Linked DNA regions of Homo sapiens: region 2 is linked to region 1. Evidence: fine-mapped expression QTL. A gene starts in region 1. The other region holds a variant in brackets. All regions are shown on one strand. Distances are from middle to middle.

Region 1 (8,549 bases):
TTTTCTGGAACACTAAAGAGTGGGAGGGTTCCTTTAACCCTTCATGTTTTCCAGGATCACAGGACTTGGGTAAAATTCAACATGGTCAGTGACTACATTGGTACAAAGACCAACACATTAAAATAATATATTACAAGACTTTCTTTGACTTAAATGTTCTTTTGTTCTTTTCTCTCTGCCCCCATTTTGTGGGCCCCCAAATTATTATGGGTCCTGGGCACCGTCCCTAATGGATAAGCCAGCCCTGATCTGAGACACAGAGAGGCTGAGGGTCTCTAAGACCACTAAGCTAGCTACAGCAGAGCTCAGACAAGAGCAACTAGGTCTAGACCTCTTTCTACATTTGCGACTATGAAAACTATGGAGAAGGCTCTGCTCAAGAGGTAGGATGAAGGCTTGGGGATGAGGGGATGTGTGGGGATATTAACTTTGATATAAGAACCTGCAGACTTAGAAGGAAAGGATTGGTGAGGGAAATTCATTAAAGAGTTGATGGCTGGGAATGCCTTAACCGTTGACTGTCACAGGCACATCATTCAACAACATTTATTCTGTATCTCCTACGTGCTTGGTGTCCCTGCCTTTACAGAGCTTACAGTCAAGCAGGGGAGGCCAATGCACAAGCAATGGTAGTCAGTTGTGACAAGTGTAATGACAGAGGAAGCAAGGTAATTAGGAGTGAGTAACAAGCACATCTAACCTGCAGGAGGGAAGTGAGAATCCAGAATGGAAATGAACCAGTCCCAAAGGATGCAGAAGGCGAGAGGAGTGCTCTAGTAGGAAACACTGCATGCAGGAAGACCCAGGATATGTGAAGTTTAAGAGATGGAAAACCTGTGATCTTACTTGGGCCTGGCCAAATATCCTTAATATTTGGGAAGCCAGATATCAGTGAAAAAAAGGAGGAGTTAAAATCTCTCCCAACCTGCTTCCAGGAGTATTAGAATCCAAGACTAAGGAGCCAATAGGATTTGGAGGGTAAAGTCATGTAACTGAGAAACCTTAAAAAAAAAAGCAGTGTCTCCCCACCCCACATTTTACTAAACCACCCAGTCATTCAGTTTAGGTACTTAGTCTATTCACAACAGGCTAGGATGCTGGTTTCAATGTTGAATTTTTCACCCACTCTTGATACTTTTAATGGCTTTTCCCTATTCAGAGGCTGCATTTTTTGTTTTGTGGGTTTTCTGCTTTGGGTTTTTGTTTTTGTTTTTGACAGAGTCATGCTCTGTTTCTCAGGCTGGAGTGCAGTGGTACAGCTAGCTGCAGCCTTCAACTCACAGACTCAAGTGACCCTCCTGACTCAACCTCCAGAGGAACTGGTACTACAGGTGCACAGCCACCACGCCTGGCTAATTTTTGTATTTTTTGTGGAGATGGGGGTCTCCTCCTATTGTCCAGGCTGGTCTCAAACTCTTGGGAGCAAGCAATCTATTCACCTCAGCCTCCTAAAGCGCTGGGATTACAGGCATGAGCCACCATGCCTATGCAGTCTTGAGGAAAACGTCCTTCCATCCCTTACCAAAAGATCTTGGATATATTGATTTCTTTTCTTTTGTGTATATATCCAGCAGAGGAATTGCTGGATCATATGGTAGTTTTATTTTTATTTTTTTGAGGAAGCTTCAAACTGTTCTCCATAGTGGTTGTACTTATTTATATTGCCACCAACAATGTATGAGGGTTCCCTTCTCTCCACATCCTTGCCAGCATTTGTTATTGCCTGTCTTTTGGATATGAGCCGTTTGAATTTGGGTAAGATGATATCCCATTGTAGTTTTGATTTGCATTTCTCTGATGATCAATGATGTTGAGCACCTTTTCATATGCCTATTTGTCATTTGTATGCCTTCTTTCGAAAAATGTCTTTTTGGGTCTTTTGCCTATTTTTATATTTATTTATTTATTTAGAGATGGAGTCCCACTCTGACACCCAGGTTGGAGTGCAGTGGTGTGATCTCAGCTCACTGCAGCCTCCACCTCTCGGGTTCAAGTGATTCTCCTGCCTCAGTCTCTGGAGTAGCATCGACTACAGGCACACACCACCATGAGCAGCTAATTTTTGCATTTTCAGTAGAGACAGGTTTTCATCATGTTGACCAGGCTGGTCTCGAACTCCTGACTTCAAGTGATTTGCCCACCTCGCCCTCTCAAAGTGCTGGAATTACAAATGTGAGCCATTGTGTCTGGCCTTTTGCCCATTTTAAAACTGAATTATTATATTTTTTCCTATTGAGTTGTTTAAGCTCTTTAGTACCACCACTACGGAGAATAATTTGGAGCTTTCTCAAAAAACTAAAACTAGAACTACCATATGATCCAGCAACCCGATTGCTAGGTATACATCCAAAAGAAAGAAAATCAGTATATCAAAGAAATATCTGCACTCCTGTGTTTATTGCAGCACTGTTCACAATAGCCAAGATTTTGAATCAACCTAAGTTGTCCATCAACCGATAAATGGATAAGAAAAATGTGGTACATATACACGGTGGAGTACTATTCAGCCATATAAAGAAAGAGATTCTGTCATTTGCAACAACATGGATGGAACTGGAGATCATTATGTTAAGTGAAATAACCCAGGCACCGAAAGACAAACTTCACATGTTCCCACTTATCTGTGGGAGCTAAAAATTAAAACAATTCAACTTATGAAGATAGAGAGTAGGAGGATGGTTATCAAAGGCTGTGAAGGGTAGTGGGGGGTGGGGGAGTCGGGTGGAGGTGGAAATGGTAAATGGGTAGAAAAAACAGAAAGAATGAATAAGACCTACTATTTGGTGGCACAACAGGGTGAATATAGTCAATAATAATATAATTGTGCAGTTAAAAATAACTAAAAGAGTATAATTGGATTGTTTGTAACACAAAGGATAAATGCTGAGGTGATGGAAACCTCATTTACCCTGATGTAATTATTACGCATTGTTTGTCTGTATCAAAATACGGCATATACCCCATAAATATATACACCTACTGTGTATCCCCAAAAACTTAAAAAAAAAAAAAAAAAAGGTTGAGGCCTCATCTCTGCCAATGCCTAGGGTCAAGAGTTCACGTCACCTGGGCTCTTTTGATCTAACCCCCCCTAACTAATTCTCTCCAGCCCTGAGAGGACAGGCAACCGCAGGCTGCTGGCGGGCCTTTTCCAGCCGCCACCGCAAGTGAGAGAAGGAGGGAGGGAGGGAGGGAGGCAGCGGGTCCAGGTTGCAGGAAGGGAGAGCGGGTGCACCCGCCCGCGGGCGGCTGGGGCCAGAGCTAGCCCGGTCCGCGCGCTGCGGGGGCAGGACCGGGGCGGGGCGGGGCGGGGCGAGGCGGGCGGGGCCGGTACCCGTGACCCTAAGGGCGAGACCCGCCAGCCTGCCTGGCCTCTGCCGCTCCTCCGCCCCACGGCTCAGGTAAGGCAGGCACCCCCAGAGCGCAGGTCGGGCTGCCGGGTCCCAGGCTGGTGGTCTTCGTCTGCCCCTGGCTGGTGCAGCCGCACGCCTTCCCGCCTTCAGAGCACGGCGCAGGAGGGGACGGCCCGCGCTTGGATACAGCTGGGCCGGGAAAGAGGGTGGGCGTGCGCAGCGCTATCTCTAACCCCTTCCTTTGCTCTAAGTTCTTGCACTTGGAAACTGGAAAAGTCCCTCTTCAAACTCTTTTCCAGATGTGGCATCAGGAGTGAACAAAGCCGCTCATCTCGCAGTATCCCTACCTATGCTCCTGGGAGGAGTCTACCCCAGATACGGTTAGGGACCTGCCTTTCCCTATTAGGATAATTTCTTGGAACTTGGGAATTGGACTTCTATGGAACGGAATCGATTGAATTAATTTTATTTATTTATTTATTTTTAAAACTTTAATTTTAGGTCGAATTAATTTTAAAGCTGAGTTCAAGGGCAGGGAAAACGACCGGGTGGGCCTAAGCCTGCTGGGGTGTGACAGCTTGGGGCTGTGGGGACGGGGGCTGGCGAAACTTTCCTTGCTCTGCCGCTTGGGCTGAGTCGGCAATAAAGACTGCGGGGACAAGACTTTTGCCCCTTGTAAGGTTGGATGAGAGGCAGGAAGATAAAGGGGGGACTGTCTGTGCTGACAAAATCTGGAAAAGGTGATGCACTGGGAATACTTCCTTTTGGAAACTGGTGCTGACTTATACCATCTTCCCCACTTATTATAGCATTTTTGTATCCATTTCAATACAGTTAACGACGTTCTGTTAAACAAAACGTAGGTGTATGGTACGTTTGTCTTCCCCCGCCCGCACCGCCCCCCCCCCCCCCGCAGTTTTGTGTTAAATGACTTCAAGGTCACCGATTGGAGACTAGGTCACCTGTTGGGGATCTTTTTACCTGAAGTGTTTTCCTCCACCCCTTCCCATTGTCACTGCCAAAACACCATTCCTTTCTTCCCTGTTCAGCTCTCACCACTTACAAACCAGTGAAAAGGAAAGCGGCCACTTCTGTCATGCAAGTACTTGTGGTTAAGTTGGTCTTGTGCAGCTTTTTTTTTGTAAACATCACTTGTTCCTTTGTCTTTTTTTAACTCCTTCAATATTAAAATGTGCCAATAGAGTCTTCTGTAAAGAATGTAAAAGGCTGTAGGAGAAAGGGAAACTGCCCTTGAAGGTGTCTAGTAAAGTGATTTTTTTAACCTAAAAATTAATATTTTATATTGAGTTCCAAAGCTTTCACTTCTTTTGGAAAAGGTATTTTAAAATTATAAGTATTTTGTCAAGAAAATATTAACTAGGCTGGGCGCTGTGGCTCATGCCTGTAATTCAAACACTTTGGGAGGCCAAGGTAGGTGGATCGCTTGAGCTCAGGAGTTCCAGACCAGCCTGGGCAACATAGCAAAACTTCATCTCTACAAAAATCAGCTGGGTGTGGTGGTGTGCGTCAGTCCATAATCCCAGCTACTAGGAAGCCTGAGGGAGTTGGATGACTTGAGCCTGAGAGGTCGAGATTGCAGTGAGCCATGATTGCATGCTTCACTGTACTCCAGGCTAGGTGACGGAGAAAGACCCTGTCTCAAAAGAGAAAAAGAGAGAGAGAGAGAGAGAGAGAGAGAGAGAAAATAAACTCTTAAGTTTCTCCCTGTGTGTGAAATCTTCCATTAACGGTCTCTACCCAATGAACTGAATGCTTTAGAAATCTGACGTTCTAGTTTATACATGCCTACTGGAATGGAAGAGTGCATTTGACTTGTGAAATAACTTAAAGGAACCTTGAAAATAATGGTATCAGTAAGATTTTAAGATTTCAAGTTTGTTGCATTCAGATATCTTTGTAGCTTGACAATTCATATACTCGAAATTTCTGTTATTTAATAATAATAATGTTAGTAATAATGTTGCTCACAATAGAGGATGTCCTTTATGAATAATTCTTTTTTTTAATTTTTAATTTTTTGTTGTTGTTGTTGTTGTTGAGATGGAGTCTCACTCTGTCTCCCAGGTAGGAGTGCAGTGGTACTATCTCGGCTCACTGCACCCTCTGGTCCCTGGGCTCAAGTGATTCTCCTGCCTCAGCCTCTCCAGTAGCTGGGGTTACAGGTGCCTGCCACCATGCCTGGCTAATTTTTGTATTTTTAGTAGAGGTGGGGTTTCACTATGTTGACCAGGCTGGTCTCGAACTCCTGACCTCTAGTGATCCACCTGCCTCGGCCTCCCAAAGTGTTGGGATTACAGGCATGAGCCACCGTGCCTGGCCATTTAGGAATAATTCTATCGCTACATCATAAAAGGTACCTTTCTGGAGGCCTTTTCTATATGTATGGTTATTTTTTCCCAGTTGTTAAGCTTTGTAGATTCAGTTCTTCTCTAGGCTGAATTGGAAGCAGGCAGATGTGGTGGAGACCTGGACTAAAAGTATCTATCTGTGCACTGAGGTCTAGGCCCAGGTCAGCTTTGAAGTCCTTGCAAGACCTCTTCCTAATCAACTTTGGGGACCCAGGAGTTTCTTTATTTACATGTGTCACGTTTATCTTCAAAATGAGAGAGATATCTTTGGTCTGAAAAGACATTTGGGCCCCTTTGAACTTTTCTAAAAAATGCAAATTTTCATTTACAGAGCTAGATATCATTGCTGTAGGGGAACACTGATTCCAGAATTTGCTCTCATTTCCAGAGGCTGTCCTCACATGCTGACCACCACCTCTGCCCCACCTAACCAGCATAGTGCAGTGATTAAGAATTGAGTTTTTCATAGACTGATGGATCTGTTTGTTTCCTAGCTCTGACCTTCGGCAAGTTACTTATGTTCTCCAAGACTCATTTTCTTCATGTTTGGAATAGTGATAATAATGCATATTGATATTATGAGGACCGCATGAAGCAGTGAACGTAATCTAAGCAGCACAGTGTCTACAACTTAACATATAGTCAGTAAGTGGTAGCAATTGTTTACTTTGACACTGACTTTTCCTCTCTCTCTCTGTCTTTTTTTTTTAACAAGTTGAAATTCAACTGGGAGAAATGTAAAGCCCTACACAGTAAGTGTTTAAAACAATAAGCGAGTACAGGATGAGGGAGATGTAATTTACTGAACCAGTCAACCTTTTGGTTAATTGACATTTTGTTGCTTGTGAGTCGGCAGTGAGTTGTGAGGGCCCATGTATTAGTCCTTTCTCATACTGCTCTAAGGACACTGCTCTAAGACTGGGTAATTTATAAAGAAAAGAGGTTTAACTGACTCACATTTCCACGTGGCTGGGGAGGCCTCAGGAAACTTACAATCCTGGCGGAAGTCACCTCTTCATAGGGTTGCAGGAGAGAGAATGAGTGCGGAGCAAAGGGGGAAGCCCCTTATGAAACCATCAGATCTCGCGAGACCTTACTATCACGAGAACAGCATGGGGGAAACCATCCTCATGATTCAATTACCTCCCACTGGGTCCCTCCCACCACATGTGGGGATTATGGGAACTGCAAGATGAGATTTGGGTGGGGATGAAGCCAAACCATATTAGCCCAGAAAGCTGATATGATTTTTAGATTGCTTTAGTATAGATTAGAACACAGAGTCCTGTGAAATCCTTATTCTCCTTAGGGTATCAGTACTCCTACTTTCTTTGTTACCACTTTCTTATGTTAAGAGGAATAATGAATTTCAGAATGGGGGAGTGAGAAGGTGTGGTTGATAGAGACTACCTTTTCTATTAGAGACTGAGCTATGCCCCCCACTTTTTTAGACTGGATATGTAAATTACCAGCTGAATGTTTCAGTAATTGGACTTCCTTGGAGAAACTCTTCTTGATCTCCTCCCAGCAGGGTTAAGTGCAGCCTCTGCTGCGCTCTCTACCTGCTTTGTGGGAACCAGGCCTAGCCCTTCTCTTTCTGCGGTAATGGAGGCCCCATGATCTGTCAGCATCATGGGACAGGAAGTGGGGCCTTCATCTCATTCTCAAGAGGAGAACAGAGTCAAGAACACAGTAGGTGCTTTATAAATCTTTGTTAAATTAATTAACTGCCACTTCCCAAACCACTGTTAAAACAAATTGCTTTATTTTCTGTGATGCATTGCATAGTTTTCTTCTCTTTCTTAAATGTGCAAAACCCTGTGCTAATTCTATATGCCCGCTTTTGAGAATCTATATGCCTGCTTTTGAGAAATACAATGTATTTAGCTGTAATTATTATTTAAAATTGAAAATAAAAATAATTTGTAATAGCATCATTAATTTTTAGTTAAGGGAAATAATGAATGTGATGCCTAATAATCCGTTATGCCACATAGGAGCACAGATAATTATTTCTCCTCTTGTTGAGGAACTGGGATGTAAGCATTTAAAGTATCTTCTTTATATGCATTTTGATTTCCAATTGAACAAAAAAATATAAACAGGAAGGACTTCATTCTTTTTTCCAGTGAGATCACAGAGATAAACCAAGTTAGAGCAACTCTCTTGAATAGCTAATAGCTGTCGCCTGGGGAAGGAGAAAATTATTTTCTGCCTTCCATGTTGATGTATATAGAACATGTGTTCTGAGTAGCTCCTATTTTCACTGCCTCTTTTTCCAGTTGAGGTGCAACATAAACTATTTTAATTAACATTGTGTCACCAAAAGGGGTTGAAATAGCCAATTGAATTCTGCCAAGATAGAGTCTTTTGATGAAAACATATCTTTATTGATTGTGGATGAAGAAAATCATTCTTAAAATGAAATCCAGAGAAAAATCATATCCCTCAGAGAAAATTTCTGAGTGGCAGGCTGAGATTAACATCATAAAATTGAATTTGTGCTGCAAGCCTTTGATGTAATCAGCAGCTGGGAGATGGTGTTGCCCTTGCTGTGCTCTCTCTGATTGTGGTGAATTATTGTGTGGAATGAAATAAGTGTTTCTTGTGTCCCTCCTCCAAGAAATACAAACAAGGTATTACCAGGTAGTTTCTTGCTAGTTAAAATGGGTTGGATCGATTCCAGGCCTCTCAGGCTCTTATACACCCATGAACTATAGGTGTTGGATATTTATTTATGCCCTAGGGACAGAATTTCTTTATATCACTGGACAGTGACTTCTTTGGTCAGTAGAAATCAAGCAGAGAAGAGGGATCCCCTTTGCCA
Region 2 (8,549 bases), 220 kb after region 1:
GAAATACGTCCCATCAATACCTAATTTATTGAGAGTTTTTAGCATGAAGGGTTGTTGAATTTTGTCAAAGGCCTTTTCTGCATCTATTGAGATAATCATGTGGTTTTTGTCTTTGGCTCTGTTTATATGCTGGATTACATTTATTGATTTGCGTATATTGAACCAGCCTTGCATCCCAGGGATGAAGCCCACTTGATCATGGTGGATAAGCTTTTTGATGTGCTGCTGGATTCGTTTTGCCAGTATTTTATTGAGGATTTTTGCATCAATGTTCATCAAGGATATTGGTCTAAAATTCTCTTTTTTGGTTGTGTCTCTGTCCGGCTTTGGTATCAGAATGATGCTGGCCTCATAAAATGAGTTAGGGAGGATTCCCTCTTTTTCTATTGATTGGAATAGTTTCAGAAGGAATGGTACCAGTTCCTCCTTGTACCTCTGGTAGAATTCGGCTGTGAATCCATCTGGTCCTGGACTCTTTTTGGTTGGTAAACTATTGATTATTGCCACAATTTCAGCTCCTGTTATTGGTCTATTCAGAGATTCAACTTCTTCCTGGTTCAGTCTTGGGAGAGTGTATGTGTCAAGGAATTTATCCATTTCTTCTAGATTTTCTAGTTTATTTGCGTAGAGGTGTTTGTAGTTTGTAGAGGTGTTTGTAGTACTCTGATGGTAGTTTGTATTTCTGTGGGATCGGTGGTGACATCCCCTTTATCATTTTTTATTGCGTCTATTAGATTCTTCTCTCTTTTTTTCTTTATTAGTCTTGCTAGCGGTCTATCAATTTTGTTGATCTTTTCAGAAAACAGCTCCTGGATTCATTAATTTTTTGAACGGTTTTTTGTGTCTCTATTTCCTTCAGTTCTGCTCTGATTTTAGTTATTTCTTGCCTTCTGCTAGCTTTTGAATGTGTTTGCTCTTGCTTTTCTAGTTCTTTTAATTGTGATGTTAGGGTGTCAATTTTGGATCTTTCCTGCTTTCTCTTGTGGGCATTTAGTGCTATAAATTTCCCTCTACACACTGCTTTGAATGCGTCCCAGAGATTCTGGTATGTTGTGTCTTTGTTCTCGTTGGTTTCAAAGAACATCTTCCTTTCTACCTTCATTTTCTTATGTACCCAGAAGTCATTCAGGAGCAGGTTGTTCAGTTTCCATGTAGTTGAGCGGTTTTGAGTGAGATTCTTAATCCTGAGTTCTAGTTTCATTGCACTGTGGTCTGAGAGATAGTTTGTTATAATCTCTGTTCTTTTACATTTGCTGAGGAGAGCTTTACTTCCAAGTATGTGGTCAATTTTGGAATAGGTGTGGTGTGGTGCTGAAAAAAATGTATATTCTGTTGATTTGGGGTGGAGAGTTCTGTAGATGTCTATTAGGTCCGCTTGGTGCAGAGCTGAGTTCAATTCCTGGGTATCCTTGTTGACTTTCTGTCTCGTTGATCTGTCTAATGTTGACAGTGGGGTGTTAAAGTCTCCCATTATTAATGTGTGGGAGTCTAAGTCTCTTTGTAGGTCACTCAGGACTTGCTTTACGAATCTGGGTGCTCCTGTGTTGAGTGCATATATATTTAGGATAGTTAGCTCTTCTTGTTGAATTGATCCCTTTACCATTATGTAATGGCCTTCTTTGTCTCTTTTGATCTTTGTTGGTTTAAAGTCTGTTTTATCAGAGACTAGGATTGCAACCCCTGCCTTTTTTTGTTTTCCATTTGCTTGGTAGATCTTCCTCCATCCTTTTATTTTGAGCCTATGTGTGTCTCTGCACGTGAGATGGGTTTCCTGAATACAGCACACTGATGGGTCTTGACTCTTTATCCAATTTGCCAGTCTGTGTCTTTTAATTGGAGCATTTAGTCCATTTACATTTAAAGTTAATATTGTTATGTGTGAATTTGATCCTGTCATTATGATGTTAGCTGGTGATTTTGCTCGTTAGTTGATGCAGTTTCTTCCTAGTCTCGATGGTCTTTACATTTTGGCATGATTTTGCAGCGACTGGTACCGGTTGTTCCTTTCCATGTTTAGCGCTTCCTTCAGGAGCTCTTTTAGGGCAGGCCTGGTGGTGACAAAATCTCTCAGCATTTGCTTGTCTGTAAAGTATTTTATTTCTCCTTCACTTATGAAGCTTAGTTTGGCTGGATATGAAATTCTGGGTTGAAAATTCTTTTCTTTAAGAATGTTGAATATTGGCCCCCACTCTCTTCTGGCTTGTAGGGTTTCTGCCGAGAGATCCGCTGTTAGTCTGATGGGCTTCCCTTTGAGGGTAACCCGACCTTTCTCTCTGGCTGCCCTTAACATTTTTTCCTTCATTTCAACTTTGGTGAATCTGACAATTATGTGTCTTGGAGTTGCTCTTCTCGAGGAGTATCTTTGTGGCGTTCTCTGTATTTCCTGATTCTGAACGTTGGCCTGCCTTGCTAGATTGGGGAAGTTCTCCTGGATAATATCCTGCAGAGTGTTTTCCAACTTGGTTCCATTCTCCCCATCACTTTCAGGTACACCAATCAGACGTAGATTTGGTCTTTTCACATAGTCCCATATTTCTTGGAGGCTTTGCTCATTTCTTTTTATTCTTTTTTCTCTAAACTTCCCTTCTCACTTCATTTCATTCATTTCATCTTCCATCGCTGATACCCTTTCTTCCAGTTGATCGCATCGGCTCCTGAGGCTTCTGCATTCTTCACGTAGTTCTCGAGCCTTGGTTTTCAGCTCCATCAGCTCCTTTAAGCACTTCTCTGTATTGGTTATTCTAGTTATACATTCTTCTAAATTTTTTTCAAAGTTTTCAACTTCTTTGCCTTTGGTTTGAATGTCCTCCCATAGCTCAGAGTAATTTGATCATCTGAAGCCTTCTTCTCTCAGCTCGTCAAAGTCATTCTCCATCCAGCTTTGTTCCGTTGCTGGTGAGGAACTGCGTTCCTTTGGAGGAGGAGAGGCGCTCTGCGTTTTAGAGTATCCAGTTTTTCTGTTCTGTTTTTTCCCCATCTTTGTGGTTTTATCTACTTTTGCTCTTTGATGATGGTGAGGTACAGATGAGTTTTTGCTGTGGATGTCCTTTCTGTTTGTTAGTTTTCCTTCTAACAGACAGGACCCTCAGCTGCAGGTCTGTTGGAATACCTTGCCTTGTGAGGTATCAGTGTGCCCCTGCTGGGGGGTGCCTCCCAGTTAGGCTGCTCGGGGGTCAGGGGTCAGGGACCCACTTGAGGAGGCAGTCTGCCCGTTCTCAGATCTCCAGCTGCGTACTGGGAGAACCACTGCTCTCTTCAAAGCTGTTAGATAGGGACATTTAAGTCTGCAGAGGTTACTGCTGTCTTTTTGTTTGTCTGTGCCCTGCCCCCAGAGGTGGAGCCTACAGAGGCAGGCAGGCCACCTTGAGCTGTGGTGGGCTCCACCCAGTTCTAGCTTCCCGGCTGCTTTGTTTACCTAATCAAGCCTGGGCAATGGCGGGCGTCCCTCCCCCAGCCTGGCTGCCGCCTTGCAGTTTGATCTCAGACTGCTGTGCTAGCAATCAGCGAGACTCCGTGGGCGTAGGACCCTCCGAGCCAGGTGCGGGATACAATCTCGTGGTGCGCCGTTTTTTAAGCCGGTCCGAAAAGCTCAATATTCGGGTGGGAGTGACCCGATTTTCCAGGTGCGTCCGTCACCCCTTTCTTTGACTAGGAAAGGGAACTCCCTGACCGTTGGGCTTCCCAAGTGAGGCAATGCCTCGCCCTGCTTAGGCTCGCGCACGGTGCGCGCACCCACTGACCTGCGCCCACTGTCTGGCACTCCCTAGTGAGATGAACCCGGTACCTCAGATGGAAGTGCAGAAATCACCCGTCTTCTGCGTCGCTCACGCTGGGAGCTGTAGACCGGAGCTGTTCGTATTCAG[C/T]CATCTTGGCTCCTCCTGTTCTTCTTTTTACTGCTTTCTAATTCATTGTCTTTCTTTCCTCTTGTTTTTTTTTTTTTTCTTTCTTCCTTTGGTTTGCTGTATTGTTATGTCTTCATTATTACAATTTTTTTAAGTTCTACAGTTTTGTATTGAATTTCCCTTTTGAGCTGAATTATTTAGTAATGTGTTTTGAAATTTCCAGGTGGAACGATCTAATTTCTAGCCTTATTGCGTTGTGATCAGAGAAGTTTTCTGTGCTAGTTCCATTCCTGGAATGTTGGAGGGGTCACTCCGGAAAATAAGATGTGGCCAGTTTTGGTAAATGTTTCATGTGCACTTAAGTACAAGGTGTACTGTCTACTATTGGCATTAGAGTTTGATTATTACATCTACTTTATTGACTTAGTTCTGTAGGTTTTCTATATTCTTGTCAATATTTCGTCCCCATTATGTGTCTTATATTCAGAGATATGTGCTAACATTATCTATCGTTAGTTTCCATTCTCTTTAGCCTCTGCTTTATTAAAGTAGCTGTGTTATTACTTACACATATATTAGTCATTGAAATACCTCCATTGTGAATTGCAGTCTTTAGTATTACGAAATACTCTTCTCTGTGTCTTTATTTATTGCTCTTTGGTTTGCATTCCACCATGCTCAATAATATTGTGACCACTGCTTTTTAAAAATTTATTTATATCCTGTCTATCCTTTTATCTTTAATCTTGCTTAACTCTTTGTTTTTGATGTATCTTTTTAAAAACAACATAGTGTTAGATTTTACTTTGTTAGTCAATCTTAATCTCTTTTATTCTAATAGGTGAATTAAGTCCATTAACATTTATTGATAAAGATGGTAAGTTTGTACATAGACACAAATATATGAAACTATATATGTTCTTTTACTATGTCATCTATTTCATTTTATTTTCCTCAAAATCTCTCTTTCTCTCTCACTTTCTGTATGTAGGTATTGAGGGAGTATTTGGTAGTTTTTTTTTTTCCTAATGTTTACCTTTATGCTAAAACCTTTACGTATTACCTTTCTTCTCATTGCCAGTTAGCCCTCAACTATTAGCAATAATGAAATAATTTGCTACTAACATTTTTACTTTCTCTCTTCCAGCATCTAATTTGAAATGATACTCTTTTACTCTCAGGTAATACATATACTACTAAGTATATGTATTACTATGTAATTACTCAGCTTATCCTGCTTTTTATGCACTCTCCATATCCCTCTGATCACCTGCATTTTTCATAGTTGTTCTATGAATTGTCAGAGAATACAGCCATATTTCTATAACCATCATTTGATTTTAGTTCTACAGGTAAATGTATATTTAGTGCTTACCTCTTATTCTGATGCTGATGGCTTTTCAATTATTCTAGTTATCTAAAGCTCATTTTTAGTAGGTCACCCAGGAAAGGCATATTTAAACAATATTTCTTAAGTTATTGCATGCTTATATTAACTTGCAGCCTTTCTAGTTAAAAGTCAATTTTGCTGGATAGAAAATCTTAGTTCAATTTTTTCTTTCTCTTAAATTTTTAAGTATGTTACTTTATTTTCTGGGGTAAAGTGTTGTCATCAGAATCTTTTGACAATTTTATTTTTTTCCCTTATGAGTAACTTGACCCACTTATTTTTCTATCACTATTTTGAAATTTGCTCAAATATAGAATATTGCTATTATCTATAAGTTCAAATTAATGAGTTTCATGGAGTATGTGTTGTAAAGACCAAAAGCAAGGCACTACTTATATCTAAATGTACTTACTGAGACCAGTCATGAAATCTCTGATCCAGTTATTTCAGCTGCTTTTATAGAAGGATCAGAACCATGCAGTGATCTGATTCATTCTGTGATCTGCTGTGTGTCTAGGGGTGGGTGAGCCAGGGCGGGTAGCAGTATAAATATTGGGTCAAACAAGATAAAAACACAGCAAAAAACTTTTTATAATAAACCAAAATAAGTCTATTTTTTCACCTTTAAAATTAACTAAAATGGATATAATAATGCATTCCGCATCACCCAATGTTAACCTGGTGTTCAAGAAAAAGAGAATTTTTTGATGTTATTTTATATGAGGTTTTATGGTGCTTTCTACCCTAGAAATGAAAAAGAAGAATGTTAATAACAAGTAAACCACTATTTCTGTGTGTTAGATGTATACACCGTCAAATGACCTCCTCCACTAATGTGTTTGCCATTGACGGAGCTGAGCTTCATTAGACTTTCAGTTTCAATACTAGCATTTCTTAAATCTTAATGTGTGAATGGAAACCAGGAAAAAAGCAGCAATCAAGAACCATGCACAAGTGATGGTGCAAGACCTGTTCTTACTTTGAAATATAAAAGATTATAGTTGCTCATTTAAAATGTTATGATCTAATCATATCCATAAGCTGAAATTTGATTGTGCACATACAATAATTTAAATTTCCAAACCCAAATCAGTTCTCTAAAAGGCTAATATATATGTAAAGTATATCACCATATCATCATTTCCATTCCATTTAATTTTTATTTAATTTATCAGCAAAAAATTAAAAAAGCTATTTAGAATAACTTTCCAATGAGGTTCTATGTTATCTGGTCAGCATTGTCAGAAGTCACTTTTACTTCCTTCCATATTCAGCACTCTTGATAAGAAAAAAGAATTACAGATGACTTTGGACAGGTTTTTATTTAGTTAATAGATACAAATGGACATGCCTCTTTAAACTGGTAAAATAAAAGGGGGCCACTAACAATAACTTGTAGATTTCTACAGTCTTCAATGAAGATCAAGATAATATAGCTATTTAAAATATTTCTTCTATTACTAGGTTAGAGAAATTTTAGATATTACTACATTGCTAGTAAAATAAAATAAAATGTCTTGACCTTAAGGCTGGACATCTTATTTACATTTATGCATATTTCTAGACAAAGACAGATATACAAATAATAATAATACTGAATTTACTTAGACTGTCTACATTTGAGCCATTAGGCTGAGCACTTTACATGTTTTAACTCATATAATTGTAACAACAGTTTCTTGCCCCTGGTAGGCACCATCACTATTGCTATTTTATAAATGAAGAAACAGAGACAGAAAGGTAAAGTAACATGACCAAGGTTTCCCAGTTTGTAGATGAGCCAGGATTGTATTTGAACTGGGCATTTTAATAGCATTTAGATACATTTCCATATCAATAAACTACTTGTCTTTCATTTGTGAAAGCTGTCCTTTTCAGAAGAGCCCCTAAAACTCAATAATAATCTTGAACAATGTTTGTTGAAGGAAACACTTATAAGAAACCAGCCAATTAAAAAAGGAAAGAAATATATGTAATTCTCTGAACATCTAATAATTATACAATGTCATTCAATTAAACCATCACTCTTAGAAGCAGAATCCTTGTATTACCAAATACAATCCTTGCCAAATATCCAGACACAATCATGGGCTTTAAGGATTACAAGTCACATAATAAAGGATAATGACCTAAAATTAAGCACACCAATATAGAAAGCTGGGACTGTCATGCTCAGTATAAGTCAGCAATCTATTAGATTTAATGTGAGATTAAGGAGCTGTGTAACCCGCAATTACACTGTTTTTCATTAAGAAAAAAGGTGATGATGGTGCTCAGTACAATTCTTCCTTCTATTTACCTCTGTTTAATTGGATTGGGGACTGCTTAAACATCTTTGAGCTGGAGCTTATAAGAAGATGATCCCAGCTGTTTTTCAAAGCTTAAGGCAGCAGACAGACAACAGGATCATGTCAAGGCTCATGCAAAAGCCTTAATCCTACTTTTTACGGTCAAGCAGCTACTGCAGCCCAGTGTTTAACCTTATAAGTACTAAATGTGCTATGTCACTGCTTTGGTACATTTCTCAGTGAATTGTCATTGTTTAAAACTTTTAGCTTCAATGCCGTTAAAAGATCTCAATTCTCTCCACCTTTGGAGGCTGACCATGTTACTGTGCAATGGTTCACCACACTTCTAAAACGTCAGCTGGAGAACAGTGACTTGTTTGTTCATACATTCATCCACCCATTTACTCATTAGATAAATATCCAGCTTTTTTGTATATTTCCCCAAGCTCTCTTATAGATGTAGGAGAGTAACCAGAAAGGCACCCTTCCTTTCTTTGGAGGTCGACCGATGAGCCCCATGATCATAGCGTTTCAGACAGCTCTTTGGGACTCATTGTTGAAAGTAAAAAAAATAAGTTGAAGTTCTCTTCCACTTTTTCTAACTACATCTTGCCAATCCAACCATTCAACAACTTAACCTTAGAACTACCAGCTGTAGTTCTACTGAGAATAATATCGAAGTATTTAAGAAGTAAAGGTAAATGATCAAATTAGCTTTCTCTACAGCTGCACACGCTACTGGGATGGTGACATACTTTCTTTTCTCTTTTCCTTTGGAGGGTGACTGGTAAAGGAAAAAGGGGGTGGCTCTCTGATTTGTCCTGGTGATGGTGAGCAGCCAGCAGAAAAGCAGACACGCTTAATGCTCAGCTGCTCTGACCAGTCAAGCAAGCCACCAAGTCCCAGCTGTGCCTCTTGATGTTTTCTGATTGCACCTACTCCTCAATCTGTGAACTGTTTTCTGGACTCAGATTCATCAAGCGCTGTTGCTTTAAACACGCATGCAGGCAGGCATCCTAGGATATGCCA

The links. PIP is the estimated chance that this variant, and not a neighbour inherited with it, causes the effect.
Region 2: its variant is fine-mapped to the expression of WDR72 in lung (TOPMed, PIP above 0.99).

What each region holds. Positions count from the first base shown.
Region 1 is chr15:53,754,485-53,763,033 of GRCh38, reverse strand. It overlaps WDR72 (WD repeat domain 72), which reads left to right and starts at 3,371. Exons shown (of 20, transcript NM_182758.4): 1 at 3,371-3,401.
Region 2 is chr15:53,535,964-53,544,512 of GRCh38, reverse strand. All of the region lies in intron 18 of WDR72 (WD repeat domain 72), which reads left to right. All of the region lies in intron 5 of LOC105370826 (a long non-coding RNA gene), which reads right to left. Among named protein-coding and RNA genes, the nearest start is that of WDR72, 220 kb to the left of the region's middle. The variant C/T (reference allele first, on the strand shown) is at 3,864.